Linked DNA regions of Homo sapiens: region 1 is linked to region 2. Evidence: fine-mapped expression QTL. A gene starts in region 2. The other region holds a variant in brackets. All regions are shown on one strand. Distances are from middle to middle.

Region 1 (4,398 bases), 380 kb before region 2:
TTGTTCTAAATGCACATGATATCAGTGTTCTAAAATTCTGAATGTGGTACAGCTTTCATGCTAGTGCAGTATGGAAATGCCCCTCAACTCTCCCATGCCTCTCTTCCTCCTGGGTGCCCTGTGATACTCTGGTTCTCCTCTATACTAAGCAGCCTGGTCCAGTGTCTTCCCACAAGAGCAAAGGATGAGGGACTTGTGCCCCAAGGTCCGAGTGGAACACACATACACACCCTCCCACGCACACGTACACACACGCACAATTTGGTTCACACTGTATCCTCTGACAGTAGTCACCTCTTGGCCCTGAGGCCATCGTCAATCAACAGAGAAAATGGAACATTCAGTGAAAAGTAAAACCAGACCCAGCCACCAATAAGATGCCAGAGGGCAGTGGGATGAGTGTGATCATTAAAAAGTTTATCATTCAGAACCTTCATCCTTGGAGGAAAGGGTTTCAGTAACAACAGCTCACCAACACATGTAGGTTTTAAGAAATAATATTTATCGTCTTTTTCCAAAATGAAAGGATAACCTGAAAAGTAAAAACCTTAGGAAAATGGTCCCCATACACGCACTACCCAGAAACAACACCAATGTTAGACGTGTCCCTTTATTTTCTTCTAGGTTTTTTTTTTTTCTGTAAACTGATGAATTTTTACTAACAATTCATGCCTGCACAACCTGATTATTACAGGATCTAGACAAAGAGCAAGTTCATGAACCATGTTTTTCTGATGAAAACATGATCAAAGCACTAGCTCTTAGAAACAGAAGCTACGATTGTCTCAGGTGAACACAAAAGGAGCCCCGCAGCTGGGAAGATACGTGTGACCATCAGCTTGAAAACTGGACAGGCCACAGGGTCAGGTAGTGGAGTCCTAGCCACGCCAAAGGTGCAGACACTGCTGGGAGAGGCACGAAGCAGAGCCTCCTCAGCCCAGGTGAGGGGTGGTAAGGCTTCCTTCCTGGTCAGCCACCCGCTACAAACACCACCCCTCAAAGGCCGGGGCTAGGGAGGAACCTGGGAAGTCCAATCAGCACTGTCCCATAAAGGATTCCCCTCTTTCCCACAACTCACCATAGCTGCGACAGCCTGTTCACAGTTTGCTCAGCATACATTCAGGACCTGTCACACTGTACGGCCCACATCTGTCTGCATTTCTGACTCCCCTTAGACTATGATATTTGTAAAGTATGAGGGCCATGCTCCATTCATCTTCACGTCCTTTGTGTCTAGCAGATAGGAGAGGCTCAAGATGGCTCTCACCCATCCATGAACACCAAGGAAGTAGCCAGCTTCAGGTTCTTTTTAGATTAAAGAGAAAGGGAAATGATCCAGCCCAGTCTTGTCCCAAGCTCAGCTCTTTAGCCTGAAAGTTAATGGGAAAGGCAGGGGTGGCATGTTAGATCTATTGATCGCATGTGCTACAACGTTCCAGGGGCCCCTGCTTGGTGAGCTATGTTCAATTTTTGGGAAAGAGGACAACGTCAACGCTATAATTCCGGGTGCCTACCTCACACCACTCAGGAAGACCATAATCCAATGACAACTGAGAATGAATAGAAGCTGCCTATCTGGTTTCTTGGCATCCAACACAATTAGGGCCCCTCCGCCAGGGCTCTAGGAGCACCAAGAACAGTGATACGAATGTATTCCAGGGCCCGGCACATAGTAGATGTTCAATAAATACTTCTGAATAAAAAAAATACTGTATGCCATACACAGCACAGGACACCAAGAGAGGCCTCAGTCTCTGCCACCAGGAAGCTTTTCCATCTAACACAGTGGTTCTCTGTCTAGGGTGTCCATCACAATTACCTGGAGAGCCTTTCCCCAATACTCAGGATCCGGGCTCTGCCCCAGGCCTCCTGACGCACCCTCTGAAGACAGGGTCTAGACATACGTACTGTCAAACAGCTACCCAAGTGATTCTGAGGTAAACTCCCACATTGAAGAGCCCCTGCTCTAGAGAGTAAACGAAAGCTATTATTTATTATATTTGTAAATATTGGGGGAGGGGGTGGGAGAATAAGGCAGTAATGCTTTTTTATTTGTAAGTACCAAGACTTCCCTCCCTGCCCTCCCACGGGTTAAATTTTAAAGTCCTCCAAAATTCTTGGGAGGAAACAGACC[A/G]GGTACAATTGTCGTGGTATCCAAGGGGACCGTGTAATGTACCCTTGCAGTCAGATAAAGCTCACGGAAATCAAGGGCAACTACCTAATGATCCAAGGGACCGAGACGTGACCACGAGCCTTTCCTGATTGTTTTCTCCAGGTAACCAAGGGGCAGCTGCTCTCCTTTAGCCAGGTGAGAACACTGGATATCAGTATCTGGGCCCCACTCCCCACCCAACGCTGAAACCTCCCTCAGGGATGCTATGCCAACAGCTGCCTGGCTGGGTTCTGGAGCCGAAATGGGCAACTTGTACTTAGCCTGCACTCAGACACCTGCACACGTGTCTCTAGGAAAAGAGGGAGTGCCAGCAGCATGGCCAGACACTCCCTTTCGGGCTGTAAGTTTTTCCTGAGGCTGCCTGCTAAACCTCATGCTAAGACAGACAGACAGACAGACTGACAGACACACACGTCCACAGCCTTGGAGCCCCTTTGCTCAAGGAGGCTTCCCATAGACACCTTGGCAAAGACCTACAAATGAAGCCAAGGACACGTGTCCTCTGAAGGGGAGGAAAACCACCAACCCCTGTGCTCACTCGGCCCTCCCATCCCCCTTCCTCAAATCGGAAGCCTCTGAGGCCAGTTAGGAAACCCAGCTTTGGCATGCATCATCAGCCCAGAACCCCCACCCGCCCAATCCATGCTCCCACCAAGGTCAAGAGTAGAACCGTCCCACCTCCCCTTTCTCCCCACACTCTTTAAAGCAATAGATTCTGTAAATTTTCCTTTTCCCTTTCTTGGCTCCCCTGCATATGTGGCTCCTTATTCCTGAGGATACTTAGAAAAGCCATCCTCCTCCCACCTCCTCTGCAGACCCTCCAAATATCAGCTTTCGATATTTTGCCCCTCTGTCCATTCCCGTGTCCTTTTGTAAATGGCCTCCTACAGGAAAAGCACAGTGAATACAAAGATGAGTAAGACGTGGTCCCATTCCTCAAGGAGGGCAGAGACACACACATAGACAGAAAGTTAGGACAGGAAACGCCATGACAGAGAGAAGCCTAGGGCATCACGGAGCACAGAGAGGAGCGCAGATCACAGGGGCTCCTCAGGAGATGACACCTCAGTTCGAGTCTAAAAACCCGGGATGGACTGGTGCTGGCCCAGTGGTGTCTGCAGACAAAGGAGAAATAAAGCAAAGCACAGCACAGAAGTAACCTGTGCCCAGGTCGGTGAGAAGACACTTCAGCAGGAGAAGCAGGTGAGGTCCAGGTGGGGAACCCCAGGAGGGAGCAGCTGGAAGCCAGCAGGCAGAAGCCAGCGCCTGCAGGGCTACCCCCTCTCCAGTCCTTGGAGGTGCCACCCATGGTTCTGCTGGGCTGTTCCCAGGGGTGGTTTCATGACTTAGAACCACAGGCGTAAGTTCAACCTGTCATCATGGGGCAGCCAAGCCAATGGCCCTAATTAAAGTCTCCTGAGACACAGGCGTGGCTATCTCCTTCCAGCGAGGCCCGTCTCTAGATAAATGCTCCTCTACCACAGTGCCAGAGGCTGCTTCTCCAAGTAGCTTCCTACTGGCCTTTAATTTGGTAGCACCCAAGCATTCTAGTCTGAACCCAACCATTTCAGGTTGCAAAATGTCTCTTTAATCGTTGGGAGTATGTAGACCAGAGTTTAGGAGCACACAAGATTAGAAGCCACACTCTAAAATTGAGCCCTTCATTTCCCCTTAGGTTTTAAATAGGCATATGACCACTTGGTCATATTATACCTAAAAGCATACACACTCACAGCCTCTGGTAACATAGAATTGCAGGCAACAGGGCTCTTGTGTGTCAGGAGACCCCTCTACTCTAAAATAGCAAAATCCGCAACGAGAGCACTTGACTAGTAGCTTTTGCTTACATCAAGTCATAGTTGCTTCAGCCTCCAGGCCTGTTTCCTTCTACACAAACACTACCACCGTCACCACCACCATCCTCATCATCAAATACAGTGAGCAACTGCTACACATCTGGCACTGTTCACAGTAACACTAGGAAGTAGACTATTCTATTTCATTGTTTCTAAGACCAATCCTAGAATCCATTTTACAGTTCATTCTTTCCCCCCGACATGTTAACAACTCTGAAAGGCATTTCATATTTTAGTTGGCAGGATTTTTTTTTTCCTTAGTGCTACATAAACTAAAGGTACAACTAAATTGATAGTTCTTGGATTTGAGGAAATAAGCATTTTTTTTATCCCCATCTTATTCATATGAACACTAAGCTTGGAGAGGGT
Region 2 (4,398 bases):
AGCACCTTTGGCAAGACAGATCAATGCTACCATTTTGGGTTTGTTGGGCCTTGATGACTGAACGGCAAACCCCAGTGAAACCCAAAACTAATCTCTTACACGGAGGCAGCACCTTCCCCTTTGTCATGAGCTTTCACCAGCGCTATAGCACTTGATTCTCACAGACCTGAGCCAGGCGGGGAAAGTGTGATGATTGCTTAGAAAGGGCAGGGAACTGAATGGAATGAAGGCTCTGGGGTCTGAACCCAGGTTCCTCTGGTATTTCTGCACAGTAATCTGTTACCTGGGCCAAATACCATTCTGTACCCCCATCCCCGCCATTATATATTTTAATTACTCACCTTATTCAGTGGGTTGTGAATGCCAGCTGCCTCCAGATAGGCTGTGATTTCATATAAAAGTGTGTTATCTTCTTTGGGGTAAGGAAGTGAAGGGTCCTGATAGTGGGCTTCAATGTCTGCTAGGAGAGCCCTAAAGGAAGAAAAACCCTGGAGATAAACATTAGTGAGTAAATGAATTTATACAAGAGTTAATATAGGGCAGTGATGTAATCTTTTCAAGCCTCAGTTTCCTCATCTGTAAAATGAGAGCTTGATCTCGCTAATTCTCAACCATGCCTGTGATTGGTTTTAAGTGGAAAATTTGACCTAGAATTACTTCATCTTTTGGAATCAACCTCAATCAAATGCATTCACCATTCAAATTTTCATGTATTGACTGAACTGTTCTTAATACCTGCTTTGTCAAAAGCACTGACTTGGTGAGTGAGAAGCACAGATTATTTATCTGTAAGTAGGCAGCCTCAAATGACAGCAGGTTGCTGGTGAGGCGGAGGATATGAGTTCCCTCTAGGACAGGCCTCCATAACCACTCTTGGTAATCAACACACTTCCAACTGCCCTCTGGATGATGAGTGATCAGCCCTGTAAAAAGCCAGTTGCGGATTTTGGTAATAATTGCTTTCTAAAATCTGTGCAAGTATCTAGCAGTGTCTGGTGTGTCTCTCACTCGCTCTCTCTAATGAATTCATTTGTTCAGCAGACATGTATTGAATCATGTGATCAGTACCTGTCTGCTGAATACACGAATCCATTAGAGAGAGTGAGTGAGAGACAGAGATAAACGGAGGGACAATACTGAGGAAAGAGGCTCCGAAGACAGATTTGATTATCCGTGGCAAGGAAGCCTGTAAATTCAGACCTTCCACCCAAAAATAACTTAAAAGAGTAAGAACTGAAGAAACTGGGGTGCGTAGATAATAAACAATCCAAGCCCACGGATGGCTGTTTCAAACCCTGGCACTTACTTATTGAGATTCTCCAGAGCAGCTGCCAGATGTTTAGAATCAAACCGACAAGAATAATTTAATTCATTGGCAATCTGTTGTCTCAGAATCTGCATCTGCCCAACCTGTGCACAAGCAAGAGAAAGAACAGGTAGTGCATTCAAGCATTTCAGAGTGACAGTGAGGAGGTAAACACAAAGATGACAATTCTTCACTGGGCCTTCACATCACTCTACAGGAAAAAAAATAAGGATTTCCTGAACTGATCTCTTGGCTAAGACCAGCACTGGATCTAATGAAGCACCAGAGGCCCTTCAAGGAATGTCTGGATGGATTCCCATACCCCAACCTAAAAATACCCCAAAGTCTATGATTCACAAAGTGATCTATTAATGTTCAGTTGTTCATGTATCAAAGATGTCTTTTTTGAAGCTATATTTTTAACCTTTTGGAATAAGTGCTCCAAATTTAGTAGCTGCTGTGAGAAGTCTTACTTACTTCCTTTTATTTATCCTAAATGGAACTTTCTCAAGCTCTAGGAATGCCATTTCACACTAGTATTCTCAAATTGGGTGAATATTAAGTCTGTCCATGCCACTCAGGATTATAGGTTCTATAATTATCTGGATTACAAAATAATCTACATAAAATCTTTCACGAAAATTTTAACAATGATAGCCCCTTAATCCAGGGTTCTTAATTTTTTTTGTGTGTCTGATATGGTTTGGCTGTGCCCCCACCCAAATTTCATCTTGAATTGTAGTTCCCATAATCCCCATGTGTCATGGGAGGGACCCAGTGGGAGGTAATTGAATTATGGGGGTGGTTACCTCCATACTGTTCTCGTAATAGTGGATGAGTTCTCACGAGATCTGATGGTTTTATAAGAGGCTTTTCTCCTTTTGATTATATTTCTCTTTCCTGTTGCCATGTGAAGAAGGACATGTTTGCTTCCACTTCCACCATGGTTGTAAGTTTCCTGAGGCCTCCACAGCCATGCTGAACTGTGAGTCAATCGAACCTCTTTCCTTTATAAATTACCCAGTCTTGAGTATGTCTTTATTATGTGAGAATTGACTAATATAGCCTTGGACCCCTTTGGGAATCTGGTGAAGCCTATGGACACCATTTCAGAATAACGTTTTTGAATGTACAAAATAAAACATAGAGGGTAACAGTGGAAGCCAGTTGTAATGAAATATAATTAACCATTCAAAGAACAAATCTGTGATATAGAGTTATGCTAGGATGGTGTATTAACTACAGTACTTTAAAAGTAGCTATGAGCATAAATGATACTTGGAGATTATCTGCAATGGTTGGATGATAGGAAGCGATCTTTGGGTCAGGCTTGAGAGTTCAGTTTGCCCTCATAATGTTGTCTGCATCATAAGGTCAACAGCACACTCTAACTTTTTCTGCCTATAAATGTCTTCTTTTCTACTCGGACAAAGTATTCCTAAAAGACTGGCAAAGGGGAGTGAGGGAGGTGGGGAGAGGAGGGAAGACAGTATTATAATGCAAGCAGCAATAAGGTGGAAATAAATGCATTTCCTCTGAGTTGCTGGGGGCAGAGAAGAGTTAAGGAAAAGACAGGGGCTCACGCCTGCAATCCCAGCACTTTGGGAGGCCGAGGCAGGCTGATCGCTTGAGGCTAGGAGTTCGAGACCAAGCCTGGCCAAAATGGTAAAACTCTGTTTCTACTAAAAATAAAAAAATTAGCTGGGTATGGTGGTGGACACCTGTAATCCCAGATACTTGGAAGGCTGAGGTATGAGAAACACTTGAACCCAGGAGGTAGAGGTTGCAGTGAGCCAAGATTGTGCCACTGCACTCCAGCCCAGGCGACAGAGTGAGACTGTCTCAAAAAAAAAAGAAAAGGAGGGTGGCCTTCTCTAAGAATGAGCAAAAGTTACTTAGCTAAATGGAGCTTGTAATGGTCAAAAGTATTAAATGACCTCAGATGTATTATTTTTGACCACTATTCATACAAGACTATTACTCTATTTATGTGAAAAACGTCAATCCAAAAATGCTATTTATAAATAGGAAGTGTTTGAATTTATAGAGTAGCATTATTTAAAAATTAGAATGCAGCAAATCCAAGAAAATAGTAGGTTCTTTCAGGCCACATAAAAATGTCCCTGAAACCCTGTATCTGGCCCATATAATTCTTTGCTTAATTTTCTATGTGTAGTATACTCTGTGTCAAGGATCCTCTTGAAAATATCAATCTAGAACTGGAAATAGAAATAAAGTCAGTTTAATATAACTTGCTCTCGTTTACTGCACAATGAATCTTTGTTAGTGACATTTTCTATTTTTGGTACTCACGCACTTCAAGCTTTAATAAGCTGCTGAAGAGGCTAAGGAGCCTGGGATGGATGAGAAACTTATTCTACCTACTCATTTGCCTCTTTGGAGATATCTGGCTTATCACTCTTTCTCCAAGATTTTTCTAGAGTTGCACTATTGAGTACAGCAGCTCCTAGCGATGTGTGGCTATTTATATTTAAATTAATATGAAATAAAATTAAAAATTGCATTTCACTGTCCCACAACCCACATTTCATGAGCTCAATAGCTACACAGGGCTAGGAGCTGCTGTCATCATCGAATAGCACAGAACATTTCCATTGTTGTTCCAGATTATTAACACTGGCTCCGTGACTGTACGCACCCTAATTCAAGACAAAAAGACAAATTTGTCCTTTGGGGCTTTATTTAAAGATCACTGACTCGGTCACAGTCACGTGGCTGTTACTGAATTACTGGCAACTATAACCAATAGTTGGAATAGCTACTGGACTGAGAACCCTCCAGTAAGCAAGGGGAAAACCTTCCAGTTTCTTGGAAGAATCCCTGTAATCCCCCTAACGCCTCCTACAGAGTTGGGACTCACACCTGTCCAAACTCGGGTGATTCTTTATTCCTCCTAAAGGGTTTTCCAGCAATTAGAAACTTGGCCTGGGAAGCGCTTAATATCTGACAATCATGAGGCTAGGGGAAGGCAGACCCACATCACGAGAGGATATCTAGCAGAGCCATGGGCTCCTTGCCTTACCTGTTCTGTTTAATGATCCAAACAACAACAACAACAACAACCACTCACC

Which allele goes with the higher level. Positions count from the first base shown, and alleles are read on the strand shown. Sizes are in standard deviations (SD) of each study's normalised expression.
In carriers of allele A in region 1, the expression in nucleus accumbens of the gene that starts at base 2,196 in region 2 tends to be higher than with G alone (large effect, 1.1 SD a copy in GTEx).

What was found. PIP is the estimated chance that this variant, and not a neighbour inherited with it, causes the effect. A credible set is the group of variants that fine-mapping cannot tell apart.
Region 1: its variant is the best candidate, but not a certain one, in a credible set for the expression of WASHC5-AS1 in nucleus accumbens (GTEx, PIP 0.87).

What each region holds. Positions count from the first base shown.
Region 1 is chr8:124,660,699-124,665,096 of GRCh38, forward strand. All of the region lies in intron 3 of MTSS1 (MTSS I-BAR domain containing 1), which reads right to left. Among named protein-coding and RNA genes, the nearest start is that of MTSS1, 66 kb to the right of the region's middle. The variant A/G (reference allele first, on the strand shown) is at 2,135.
Region 2 is chr8:125,038,489-125,042,886 of GRCh38, forward strand. It overlaps WASHC5-AS1 (WASHC5 antisense RNA 1), which reads left to right and starts at 2,196. Exons shown (of 2, transcript NR_170219.1): 1 at 2,196-2,291. It overlaps WASHC5 (WASH complex subunit 5), which reads right to left. Exons shown (of 29, transcript NM_014846.4): 24 at 1,307-1,410; 25 at 342-471.